Homo sapiens: one gene and its partner. The protein of the gene in region 2 interacts with the protein of the main gene of each other region in a pairwise test. Each region holds a gene or a part of one and is shown on either strand. Other genes may lie near its edges.

Region 1 (3,812 bases), on a different chromosome or scaffold from region 2:
CCCTGCATCCTCCACCTCCTCCCATTCTTACCTTCTTTAATAATCTGTCCCTTTGGCCGGGCGTGGAGGCTCACGCCTGTAATCCCAGCACTGTGGGAGGCTGAGGTGGGCGGATCACGAGGTCAGGAGATCGAGACCATCCTGGCTAACACAGTGAAAACCCATCTCTACTAAAAATACAAAAAAAGAAATAGCCGGGTGTGGTGGTGGGCGCCTGTAGTCCCAGCTACTCGGGAGGCTGAGGCAGGAGAATCGCTTGAAACCAGGAGGCAGAGGTTGCAGTGAGCTGAGACGCGCCATTGCACTGCAGCCCTGGCGACAGTGTGAGACTCTGTCTCAAAATAAATAAATAAAATAATAATAATAATCTGTCCCTTTTTCCTGCATCTTCTCTACTGATCATTTTCAGCAGTGTGCCCGCATCCACCATTCTCTTGATCTTTATCCCACTCTTCCTTTAATCCTCTCTTTCAGGAAATGCAAATGCGTAGGGGGAAACCCTAAGGAATCATCCTCCAGTCTTCATCTTCCTGCACCTGTTGATCTGCAAGACCTGTTGGTTCTGCCTCCACAGCGCATATCCACTTCCATCATTTTTGCTGTCACCCTGGCCCAAGCCGACGTTGTCTCGAGTCAACTACCGAAATAGTTTCCTAGCTGATCTCTCTGCTTTTCTTCTGGCTCCCCTAAAATTCAGTCTCCGTACTCTGGCCAGGTGACCTTTATACAACAGAAATCAGTACCATCCCCTGCTTAAAAGTCTTCCATGGGTCCCGGTGCCTATGAACTGGCCCCTGCCTCATCTTGGGCTCATTTTCCTGCATGAAAGCAGCACATGTTGTTCTCTCGGCCTGGTATGTTCTACTTTTCAAATTTCTCACTCCTCAACCTTTAGCTTCTGCCTGAAAGGCCTCCTGACATCCTGTATCCAAGGCCTCCATGTTTCTCTTCTCAGTGCATCCAGTTCATTTTGGTATAGCGGAACCCGTCGCAATTCATAACTTCGTATTTATATGTTTACTTATTTTCTGTGTTTCCCATTAGCTTATGTTCCACAAGGGCAGTGATTGTGTTTCCAGTGCCTAGCAGAATGTGTGGTACAAATGAAAAACTCTTCGAATGAACTAATGAACCAACAGGGAAGAGTGGTGGTGATGGAGGTTTACAGAGAAGGCAGTGACCAGCTGCCCCACTGATTTAATTAGCTGCTTTTCCTTATCCAAGAGAAGGCATGACAGTTTTGCACATGTGTCGGATCCAGCAGCTATGAGAAGTTCAGATGGGGTGGACTCCAGTTGTTGTTCTGAACTCTAGTAGGAAGCCACCCCTATGAATGAGCCTCTATGTACAGGGTGCTGCAAATATAAAATCGCTTTAAAAAAAAGAGGCAGCATAACATAGTGCAAGGAACACAGGCCTGTGAGTACTGATTTAGCTTCTGGTCTTTGGTTTGTGTATTAGCTTTGTTCTTCTTTTCTTTGTTTTCTTTTCTTATTTGTGAAATAAGAGAGATTGGACTAGAAAGATAAAAGTCCTCTCCAGTTTGGCTGTGTTAACGGAGTACCTCACAGTGTTATCAGCAATCGAAACATTTAATTATCTTTTGAAACCAGAATATGGAGCTGTGATGGTTCTAGGGTTAGTCAGGTGGTTCAAAGGTGTCATCAAGGACCCAGGCTCTACTATTGTCTTCTGCTTTGCCATCAGCTTTGTCTCCAGGCTTGTCCCTTATGGTCACAGTGTGGCTGCTACAGCTGAGGGCATCACACCCTTCCACAAGAGCATCAAAAGCAGAAAAGGATGGTCATGGGGCAGAGCTGTCCTTATGGGTCCCTCTCTCTTCATCAGGGAGTAAAATCTTTCCTGGAGGTCCCTAGCAGATGTCCTTGTATGTCTCACTGGCCAGAACCACTTCATGTATCCACTAGACCAATCATGAGAATGGAAGTGCCATAATTTCCTTATCCCAAACATAAATTCATCCCCCAGAGCTGACCTGTTACCCGCTGTACTCGATACAGCTTAGTCCTGTGAACAAAGGAGGAGTAAGGGCAGGCTGCTGCATGGGCTGCCTCATGGACCTGAAGTTCTGTGATTCTTAGGACTCCGCCTTTGGGAGGCTTCCTTGTTATGCTGCAGGGACTAATTGTGTTATTCACATCTCCAGTGAGGCAATGGCAGAGAACAACTGTTTTTAAGGAAGGCTTTACATTCCTGAATGAGGTGGGAAACAGATGAATTCACTGGCCAAGACAAATTCAGTGAAAAAACTGAGCCCAGCAGGTCTTCTGTAGTATAGGGGCCCATGATTGAGCTGCCTGTTGCTAAGAGGGAGTAGAAAAGATTAGAGATCATTGTAAATTATGAGGCAAGACCTCAGCTAACTTCCTCAGCAAACGACTGGTTCTTCTGCCTGTTCAGGCTGCAACCTCAAGTATTCCTAGTAAGTAGAATCTTTCTTTAAAGCTGCCTAATAAAGTCAGATAATAAATGATGAATGTATTTGTAATGGCCATTTTTTTTTTTTTTTTTTGAGATGGAATCTCACTCTGTCGCCCAGGTTGGAGTGCAATGGTGTAATGATCTCGGCTCACTGCATCCTCTGCCTCCCAGGTTCAGGCAATTCTCCTGTCTCAGCCACCTGAGTAGCTGGGATTACAGGTGCCCACCACCATGCCTAGCTAATTTTCGTATTTTTAGGAGAGACGGGGTTTCACCGTGTTGGCCAGGCTGGTCTCAAATGCCTGACCTCAAGTGATCCGCCTGCCTCGGCCTCCTGAAGTACTGGGATTATAGGCATGAGCCACCATGCCTGGCCTGTGATGGCCATATTAAGAACATACTATGTGCTGGGAACTGTGCTAGGTCTTCGGGATACCAATACAAAGGGACAAGGTCCTAGTCCTTAAGAGGCTGACATTCCAGTTGAGGGATACCACAGGTATCAGATAAGCCAGCTCTATGACAAGTGAGTTATGGGGCAGGAGAATGGGAGTGGCCACCTCTACCTAAGAGGTGAGCAAGAAAGGAAGTGACCTTTTAAGAGCAACAGATGCTTTGTCTGATGTTGAGAATAGCATGAGCCAGAGGGAGCCATTGGTTAAGAATGGCAGGCACTGGACGTGTGGAGCCGAGGCTGGGGGGTTCTGCGGCCATGCTGGGAAGTATACGTCTTACACTGCAGGTAAAGCAAACAAACACTTCCCATGGGCAAGTCTTCAGGTAATGTCAATCAAATTATTTCCCAGTTTTCTCTTCCAGAGATTACAGAAGGATTTTATTTCATTTACTTAATACATTACATTGATTATGTTCATTTATACATTACATATGTATTATGGACCAGTTGTTAATAACAAAATGTGTACCTTTGCTATAAACCATGGATAGACTAGTGTATAGCAAAATGTCTAAAAGGGATATTATGGCATCTGTTGCTCTTATAAGGTCACTTCCTTTCTTGGTCACCTCTTAGGCAGAGGTGGCCGCTCCCATTCTCTTGCCCCATAACTCACTTGTCATAGAGCCTGCTTATCTGATACATGTTGTATCTCTCAACTGGATACTGGTCAAACCTCTTAAGGACTAGGATCTTGTCCCTTTGTATTGGTATCCCCAGTAGTGGTTTCTAGTATTTTTTTGTTGTTTGTTTTTTTGAGATAAGGTCTTGCTCTGTCACCCAGGCTGGAGTGCAGTGGTGCAATCACAGCTCACTGCAGCCTCAACCTCCTGGGCTCAAGTGATCCTGACTCTCCCACTTCATTCTCCCGAAATAGCTGGAACCACAGATATACACCACCGTGCCCGGCTAA
Region 2 (4,290 bases):
AAGTGAAACGCCTTTATAATTTATACCTCAACAGAAAACACTAAAGTATCTATCCCTTTCAGACAATAAATAGGCCACTTACTTATTTCCATGATAACAGATCATTTAGTAAATAATCATATATAAACAATTCTAGCCAGTGCTACGTTCAGCATTAAAGCCATACATCCAAGGCCAGGCATGGTGGCTCATGCCTGTTATCCCAGCACTTTGGGAGGCCAAGGCGGGAGGATCACTTGAGCCCAGGAGTTTGAGACCACTCTGGGGGCAACACAGTGAGACCCACATCTTTACAAAAAGAAAAAACAAAATAGCCAGCCATGGCGCAGCACCCCTGTAAGTCCCATCTACTTGGAAGGCTGAGGTGGGAGGATCACTTGAGCCCAGGAGGTTGAGTGAGCTGTGATCACACCACTGCACTTCAGTCTGGGTGACAGAGGAGAGATCCTGTCTCCAAAAACAAAAAATAAAAAATAAACTCAACATCCAGACAAGAGGATAAAGAACAAAGATATCCACTGTCATAACTTCTTCACCCTACAAAAAAAAGAAACTGATGTTTTGATGAAACTATGTAATTCACCAATTTACCACACGTTGTTGTGAAAATGTATTCACTTTCTACAGCCAATAATGAAAGAAAGATTTTCTCTGTTTCTTTTCCCTGGCAGCATTTCCAAAAGGTGAGCCCTGAGATTCTGTTTTAAATTACTCCCAAAAAAAGAACAAACCTGAGAAACTTACTACACTCATTCTGCTGAAAAAAAAGATAGTAAGAATTTTTAACAATGAAGTATGACTTGATATTTTAATTTTCTGAAATCCACCTTTCATGGCCTTGGAAATGTTTTTTATCTTTCAAGCTCTACTGATGAAATTTACACTAACTGAAAAACTGAAGTAGAAATAAATGAACAATCTAAGGCAGCAAACTCAGGGAGTGGTAATGCTGTTGGAATACAGACATATCTGGCTCAAGTGTCAAGTCAGGTCACGGTATCATTTGAGACATTCTCCTACCCCAATACTGCTCATTAAAATGCTCAGGGACCATCCTCCCAGATCCTGCACTGTGCCCCATGGACACCGCAGCCGAGTTTGCACCACCTCACTGGGGTGGGGTTTTTGTTTTTTGGTCCTTTGGGAGTTTTTCTCCCTTCACAAATCTGAATGAATCTAGGGGGCAGGAATCATTTGTGACTGTTTCCCCTCAATACCAGCAAACGATTGGCTGACCAGCAATGTGTCTCCAAGGGATGAAAACTAGCTTTGAAGAAATAAAATCCTTATGTCCCAAGGGGTTATCTTTTTAGGTTAAGGGTGTCCCAGGAGATTTCTCTCAGCCCCAGGGCATCCAGCTGCTCCCCTGAGGGACTACATTTCCATACCTTGGGCGGTCCTCTAACAGGAGGTGACCTGGGGCTGACAGTCACTAAACACTCCAGGAGACATGGCCACTGTGGGCATCTTGAGTCATCCCAGACAGTTCTGAAATTCAGGAACAGGAAAAGACTGGATAGAGGGTGGCTATACAGGGCCCTGTAAAGTTTCCAAAGCAAAACCTCAAGTCAAAAGACATTCTTTCCGATAACGTGTCTGTGCCTGGGGAAGATGAATGAAAAAGAGGCACAGTTTTTTTTGCAGTGGAGTGTCAGGGATTTTTTATTCTCTGCTTTCCTCTCACGTGAAATGTATGCCAAAAAAACACAAATCTTTAAAAAAGTGTCATCCACTGCTCTGTGAAATCATGATTAATGAGTAAAATACTGTCTGAAATGTACAATAAATGACCAATAGTTAAGAATGTGAACTGGAGAGGGGAAGTTGGCCTTTGGAAATGTCGGGAAGGAACTGGAAATTTAATATTTTATTGCAAGCCCAGTTAGACTGGGGGAACACAGTGGTGGACTTGAGACTCTGCGTGCTACACGTTAGGAAAGCGCAGGGGGAAAACCAGTTCCCCTGGGCAGTGTTAAGATGATTAATGAGCAGGCGATTATACGGAAGTGGTTATAGTGCCCCAGGTTTCTAGGGAGAAAAACCAAAACCAAACTCAAATGCTTTTCTTGTAAATTACAACTTTAGGGGAAAACAAAATTCAGACTTAACGAACCACAAAGCTCCAATTCACCTCCACCTGCATAGTCTAAATAAGGCAACTACAAACTGTAACCCATCGGTTAATTTGGTCTGCTTCCTCATGCACCTTATAAAAACCTTTCCTTCAAGCCCCTCTGGGGATCTCCGAACCACAAACCAGGACTGCAGGCTTCCCATGTCACAAATCGCTATTTGCTCAAATTCTTCAACGTTTTAACAGTGACTCCCTTTAATTCTTAAGAGGAGTAGTGACTGAGGACCCCACAGGGCACGGTTTCTTCCCACACACCGAACCTGGGTCTCCCCTGAGACGCTCCCGTCCTCACCGCACAATCTGGGGGAGACGCGGGGCTGCGACGCGGAGCTGCCCAGAGAGGGCTCCGGCCAGGGACGAGGTCGCTCTGCGGGGTCGGGATGGGACAGGACACGCGGGGTCCCGGCTGCCGGCCTGGCCGCCATCTTGCAGCGGAGGGGACCGAGGGCCGAGCTGCACCAGTTGGGACTCGGGGCCCAGACCCCGAGGCTGACTGCGGGGAGGCCCGGGTGCCCCTACAGCGGGTTCCCGCCGCTTCCGACCACCGCCCTCCCTCCCTCTGGGGACCCCCGACCCCGCACACTCACCATTTCCCAGCTTCCGGGATGCCCTGGCGTCTTAGCTACGAATCTCCCAGTGCCTGCAAGTCGCAGAGCAACAGAGGTTCTGTTTATTCTCAGAACGCGAAGCCGCCTGGGCCTCCCAGAACGAAAGACTCGGAGCTGTGGCGAGGAGACCCGAGCTCTAACTGGAGCCGACGAAGGCCCCCGCCAAATCCCGGAAGCCGCCCCTGCTCTCCGGCTTCACTCCTGATTGGACGGTTTCCACTCCAGCGCCCCTGATTGGATAAAGCTCCATGCCCCGCCCCCTCATTATTAGTGCCTTTTTTTTTTTTTTTTTTGAAAGGGAGACTGGCTCATTGAGGTGGGGCCGCCTGCTGCGGGTATTACAGCTAATTAAGGGGTGAGCTGCGACTTGAAATACACTTGCTCTTTCCCTTACCTGGTTCTGCTTGTATAAGACATCTTATTAGCTAATTAAGTTTAAGAAGAAGTATATTTAGACACCTTTAAAGCAAGAAAGACCCTCATCCCGTCCCTTAGCACCTCTCTTACCGCACTGTACCCCACTGCTAACGCCACCGTGGGAGGGGGCCCCTCAGCTGGGAACAGAAGGCCGTACACTTCATTCACGTGTTTTCAATTAGGCCCTCGCATGATACATAGACTGAACCAGTGCAAAAGCATCTTATAGGGGCATGCAGGCTGGGGTCCCAGGAGGATGTTGCGGGCCGTGGTGGAACGTGGAAGAGGGGCTGGCCTATTCTTCTAATCTACAACTCTGCCCGCATCTCCTGGAGTCTGCATCACTGGTAACGGGGCCGCTGACTGTCCGTCTGTCTCTCCTTCTCAATCCCTTCAAGCTCAGGGAAGAAGGGTCCTTGGCAGCGACAGGGCTGGGAGCTCAGTTCCTCTGGGCCGTGCTGGCTCAGGCTCTGTGGCCACGGACTCCTCAGCCCTACCTCTGGTTTTTGCTTTTGTTTTGAGACAGGGTCTCACTCTATTGCCCAGGCTGGTGCAGTGGTGCAGTCATGGCTCACTGCAGCCTCCGGGGCTCAAGCAATCTTCCCACCTCAGCCTCCTGAGTAGCTGGGACTACAGGCACATGCCACCATGCCCGGCTGATTTTTGTATTTTTTGTAGAGATGAGGTTTCACCATGTTGCCCAGGCTGGTCTCCATCTCCTGAGCTCAAGCGATCCTCCCACCTTAGCCTCCCAAGTAACTGGGGCTACAGGTTAATAGTCAGTTCGCCAACTCCTGAGCTCAAGTATTCTGTCTGCTTTGACCTGCCAGAATGCCCTATTCCTGTTTTTCTGGAGTCTTGGAGCTAGTGGCGCTGCAGCACCTCGTAGTCTTCCGGCTGAGTAGATTCTCCTAGTCTTCTGGCTGAGTAGAAGGTGGGAGAGGAGGTGGGTGTCAAACTGGGCCAGGGCCCTCGGCCGCCATCTAGCTTGGTTAAACTCCCACTTGGGACAGATCAGGCTCTGTGCCTTATTCAGTGAGACGTGTGGAACAAATGCTTCCCTCCCCAAAGCAGAAACATCCCTGATTGCTGACAGTCAGGATTCCATGCACTTGTCTTGGCCTGGGGCAT

Evidence for each region.
Region 1: the proteins of ZNF267 (region 2) and ADORA2B interact in a two-hybrid assay, tested with the Homo sapiens proteins (one large-scale study listed by BioGRID and IntAct).

Annotation. Positions count from the first base shown.
Region 1 is NC_000017.11:15,969,115-15,972,926, forward strand, and holds part of ADORA2B (adenosine receptor A2b), read left to right. Parts: intron 1-474; coding exon of another isoform or gene 475-649; exon of another isoform or gene 650-822; coding exon of another isoform or gene 823-854; intron 855-3,812. UniProt on the Homo sapiens protein: Receptor for adenosine. The activity of this receptor is mediated by G proteins which activate adenylyl cyclase.
Region 2 is NC_000016.10:31,872,401-31,876,690, reverse strand, and holds the start of ZNF267 (zinc finger protein 267), read right to left. Parts: upstream 2,885-4,290; 5' UTR 2,725-2,884; coding exon 2,722-2,724; intron 1,540-2,721; exon of another isoform or gene 1,389-1,539; intron 1-1,388. UniProt on the Homo sapiens protein: May be involved in transcriptional regulation.